2 separate regions of the Homo sapiens genome follow, and region 2 is linked to region 1. The links come from fine-mapping of genetic effects on gene expression. Tissue or cell type: Th1 cells. Region 1 holds a variant in brackets; the other region holds the start of a gene. All regions are shown on one strand. Distances are between the middles of the regions.

Region 1 (2,685 bases):
TCTTTGACTATTGTATTATGTGGTGTGTCTATACATTTTTCTGGGAGCTCCATAGCACTTAATTGCTCTGTGACCCCCACCTACCCCCAAAAAAGTAAACAGTAACTTCTTTGAAAGTAGCATATGTCACCATATCAACTGTCAAGTGTTTTGTGTTTTTGAGTATAATCCTAGACAAATTTTAATTAAAATTAACCCTCAAAATCTTCCGGCATATAAATTGGTGTTTGGGAATTAAAAAAAAACTTCTGGCATAGGTTTTTTCGTTTGCTTTTATATAATGTGAAAAATAGCATTAAATGTGAATTGTTTTGTGTCTTCTGAACAAGTTGGTAGACAAATATTATTTAGAAGTTTGCTCTAAAAAGATGATTTCTTAAGGATATAAATCCAGAGATTTAGTTCTTTCTTAAGTTTCTAAGGTCAAACTCGTGGTTTTTTGTTTGTTTTTTTCTATTGATGAGTTTAGCAAATTTCAGCAAATACTTTGAAGTAAGGAGCTTTTAGATAATGTGTAGTCACATTTACAACCTTAGTAGAATTTTAAAAACATTTAAAAGTGCATTTCTAAATTCAGTATATTCAGTTTCTATTTCAAGAACCTCTGTTCCCTGATTTAAAACCTTTTCAAGTACATAAGTATCTTTTATAAATAGAACAAATTAGTCTTAATATGTAGAACCTTGAATTATCTTGGCTATTTCAATGCCTCAGATAACTTAATAAGATTTCTACTTTAAAATGATTAGTACAAGTCCATGTTGATTACTCATTTACACATTTTTAGATTGGATTTAGGAGGCTGAACTGTTAGGCTAATAGACCAGATAATTCTTAAATATTATAAATACTCAAAATGTTTAAAGTATGAACAAATTGCCACTTACCAAATTGGCTTTATTGTGAGATAAAGTACGTAAATATGTTACTCTGATATTTAAAGAAATAACCTTAATTACCCTAAAGACAAGATGTAGAACATTGCCAGCATCCCCAATTAAATTCTCTTTCTTCTGTTTACCATTATTCTGACTTTTCTAATAATCATTTGTTTACCATTCTTAATAGTTTGACCTCTTAGAAAGCATGCAGTCTGCTTTGTCCTCATAGAAATGGAATTACACTGCGTGTCCTCTTTTGTGACCTGTTGCTTTTGCTTAATACCGTCTTTGAAGTTCATCTCTGTTTTTGTTAGTAACTATAGTTTATTCATTTTCATTGTTGTATTTTTTTTTTTTTTTTTT[G/TG]AGGCGGAGTCTTCTCTGTTGCCCAGGCTTGAGTGCAGTGGCGCAATCTTGGCTTACTGCAACCCTCGCCTCCCGGGTTCAAGCAATTCTCCTGCCTCAGCCTCCTGAGTAGCTGGGATTACAAGCGCCCACCACCATGCCCGGCTAATTTTTTTGTATTTTCAGTAGAGATGGGGTTTCACCATGTTGGCCAGGCTGGTCTCGAACTCCTGACCTCAAATGATCCACCCGCCTCAGCCTCCCAAAGTGCTGGCATTACAGGAGTGAGCCACCACACCCGGCTTCACTGTTGTATATTATTATTATAGATATGACACATTTAATTATCCATTTTTGTTCTTGATAGACATTTGAGTTGTTTTCAGCTTATGGCTTTTAAAAGCTGTGGAGCTATGAACACTTTTATTATGTCTCATGATGAACATCTGTGGGTTTCTCTTAAGGTACATGCCAAGGAGTGGGATTTTTTAGTCATAGACTATATAGTTTATGCTTCTTAGATAAAGCCAAACTTTTCTAAAAAATGATTGTGCATGTTTTTACTCCCAGAAGGACTGTGTCAGAGTTCTTATTCCTCTGTATTCTCACTAACACAGTCAGACTTTTAAATTTTTACTCATTGGTGCATATAAATGATATTTCATTGTGAACTTAATTTACATTTCCCTGATTACTATAAGGCTGATTATTCTTTCTTAGGTTTATTGGCCACCTATGTTTCTCTTTTGAAAAATGTTTTTACTGATCGCCCATTTTTTTCTATTGGGGTGTCTGTCTTTTTCCATATTGACTCTTAGCAATTCCATTAATCCTTAGGTTGTATGTGTTGCAGATATCCTCTACTTTGTGACTGTACTTTTCACTTGCTTTATGGTGACTTCCAATAAATCCTTTTAAATTTTTTAGTCATTTTATGGCACATGTTCTTGGCTTTTGTATGTCTGGTGATGCCTTTATTTGGTTAATTTTTTTTTTCACTGTTTAGGGTTTATTTGATGTTTTAGTTAGTATGGATATTCACTTAATTCTAGAATGATATTTTTACTGGGTATGGAATTCTATATTGATAGTTATTTTTTCCTCACAGATTGAGGCTATTCCATCATTTTCTGCCTTGTTCTTGGAAGTTCAGTTGTTGCTCATCTTAAAATAATCTGTTCTCTATTTTCTGGCTGATTTTTAGACATTTATATTAATCTCGAGTTTTTAAAGTTTTCCTCTAATATGTCTGTGGGAATTTTTTTGTTGTTGTCAAGTTTGAGATCTCTGCTGGGATTCTGGAAATTTCCTGGCTGTTATTTATCTCTCAACTGTTTTTTCTGCCCCATTTTCTCTCTCTGGTTCTTTTGGGACTCTAAATATAAGTTAAATCCTTCTCACTGTGCTTTCTAGATTTTTTGTCTTCTCTGTTTTCTTTCTCTTTGTCTCTCTGTGCTGCATT
Region 2 (2,685 bases), 590 kb before region 1:
ATTCAATCTTATTTTTTGAGAGGAATTGAAAACACAGAATTGTTGCCTGAAAAATCTTTATAACTGTACATCTTTGGATTTAAACACGTACCTGCAAGTTTAAAATTCTGCTCGTTTTTTTTTAAAGAGCCTTCAGCCTGAAACCGGTCACGCTGGGGAGAAAAAGCCATTGGCTCATCCATCTGAATCCCCAAAGACGCCTCCATCACAAGCCAATTGAGATGCAAAATGCCAGCTAAGGGGTTACATCCACAGGGGGAGCAAAGCAGCTGTGAAAATTAGAACACTAGAGAAATTTAGATCACTCGCTAAACCACGCACTAAAAACATGCTACTGCCCCCCAAAGGGGCAAACATTTTCAAACGCACGATGTGTCCAAACCTCCACAGTAGGGCATACTGTGGCCTTGTCTAAGGAATTCCATGTGCTTTATTTTCACCTATCAGAAACACCGGCAGGGGGCTGCAGGGAGAATTTCCCGGCTTGGGCACCCGCGCAGCAGCAGGCGCAGTGGGAAACGGCGAGGCTGCCAGTCCGGCACAGCCAGCGGGACCGCGTGGGGGAGGGGCCGAGCGCCGGGGGCGGTTTGAAGTCAGGAAAAGAACTGAGGGAGAAAACCTTTTCGCCACTGACAGGAAGCGCCAGGAGGCTCGTCCAAGGCCCCAAGCAAGTTGACGGAGAACTGATACGACCCTGGCCACGAGTACTGGGCGGAGGAGGAGAAGGGTGAATGAATGGGAATCCGCCGGCCAGCGCTGGCCGCGAGCTCAGCCGGGAAGGACCGGCTTCCCTCGGGCCAGAGACCGAACCAGATGCTTAGTGCGCAGGCGCGCGACTTTCCCGCCGCAGGTCGGAGGGATCCGAAGGGGGGCGGGAAAAGGAACTGCACGGCGAGAAAACCGAAGTCACGATCCAGAATTCGTTCCTAATCCCTCACAATCCCGCGCCATGGAACAAACCGTCGGAAACTCACGGTTTAAGGGAGTACGACTTCTGTGGCTCCCCAGATGCCTGGGTCGCCGTCTCCAAGAGATCCCCACCTACCGAGTCGATCGGATGCGCCTGCGCAACACTTCCCGCCGCCGCTCTGGTTGCACATGCGCACACTAAAGCCCTCGACCCCGCGGATTCCGCTACTGGGCGTTTGCGCAAGAGGGTGGGGTTTCTTCCCGCCGCCTTGGCCAGCTAGAAGAGCGGTTACGGGAATGAAGCCCGTGGATGATCTTAAAAAACAGGGTGAACCATAAGGCTAAGGGCCCAGCATGATTTCCAGGAAAGAAGCTAGCTCAGAGAAGGAAAAATCTCAGGTGCTGACACATCCCTATATACGTGGCCGGCCGCACAACACATTGGGCACTCCATGGATAAAAGGCACTTTCTTGACTCTGCTTTTATTTCCTTTTCGTTGAGTGCCCTACTTCCCCGTTAAAAACAAGCAGAAAATGTAATTGCTGATTGTTTGTGGCTGTGTTAGTAGAAATTAGCACAGTGGCAGGAAGGCAGTGTATACTATTTACTGAGCCCTTGGCTATGAGGTAGGTGGGTTTTTCTAGGGGCTGGAATCATAGTGAGCAAGATAAACACCATCCCTGTAGGAAGCTAAATTCCAATGAAGCGATGACAATAACGGATGAATAAATGAACAGTATTCTTTCCGGCATTGATTACTACTTGAGGGAAATACTGACCAGGAAGGTGGCATCTAGATGGTCAGGGAAGCCCTCTCAAAGAGACCTGGATGAGAAAGAGCTGGTAGGGAGACTGTTGTCCTGGCAAAGAAAGGATAGGGCAAATGCAGAGAGAAAGAGGAACTTGGTATGTTGCAGGGGCAGGGCAGGAAAGGCCAGTGTGGGGGAAGCATAGTGAGTGAGCCGCAAGATAGTCCCAGATAGATGAAGGTGGAGAGTTAGGCAGAAGCCAGACCAGGGTCCTTGAAAGCCAGGGTAAGAAGTTTAGTGTTTGTTCTGAGTACAATTGGAAGCTATTTGAAAGTTTTAAAGCAAGGGAGTAATATGATCTATCTGTTATGAAGAGAATGGATTGTAGAGGGGCAAGTGTGGAAGCAGAGGAAATAGGATGCACTTTATGTTTAGGAGAAACATAATGGTAGTTTGGACCAGAACAATGGCGGAAGAAATAAAAGAAAGAAGACAATGGGATTTGGTGATTGGCTATGGAAAATGAAGAAAAGGGCATCATCAACAGTGAATCTTAGGTTTTGGGCTAGCATATGTGTGGGTGGTAGTGCCACATAGAAGGGAAGTCTGTGAGGTAATGGTTTTTGATTGAGTGAGGTGGAAGAGAGTAAATCAAGGATTCTAGTGTGGATACCGAGAAAGAGAAAAGCAGACCTTGACATCCAGGAGATGGCCTGGTACTACCAGCTTGGTTTGCTGTTGCTTTGAGCTGGCCTGGCAATCACAGCCAAGCATTGGTATTCTTCTGTTGAACATAAACAATTTCACAGAACATCAGACAAGACAGAGTTGTGACCGTGATAGATCAAGACAAAAGTAAGATCACTCTATAATCATATGTGAACACAGACACAACATCAACATTGCCCAAGCCATAAAAATGATCAAATATCTCCTTATCCTAGCTAATATGAGTGCCTGCTGCTTCTTTACCAATTATAGTTTTAACCTCAGTCTAGTCTTCCTTCCTTCTACATAATACTTATT

The links. PIP is the estimated chance that this variant, and not a neighbour inherited with it, causes the effect.
Region 2: CDC7 starts here. The variant in region 1 is fine-mapped to the expression of CDC7 in Th1 cells (Schmiedel 2018, PIP 0.95).

The regions. Positions count from the first base shown.
Region 1 is chr1:90,908,577-90,911,261 of GRCh38, reverse strand. No RefSeq gene overlaps it. Among named protein-coding and RNA genes, the nearest start is that of LINC01763, 58 kb to the right of the region's middle. The variant G/TG (reference allele first, on the strand shown) is at 1,245.
Region 2 is chr1:91,499,238-91,501,922 of GRCh38, reverse strand. CDC7 (cell division cycle 7) reads right to left here and starts at 1,072. Exons shown (of 12, transcript NM_003503.4): 1 at 975-1,072; 2 at 92-269. The coding sequence starts at 206. It overlaps LOC105378856 (a long non-coding RNA gene), which reads left to right and starts at 1,075. Exons shown (of 3, transcript XR_947599.4): 1 at 1,075-2,685. RefSeq lists an enhancer at 231-430.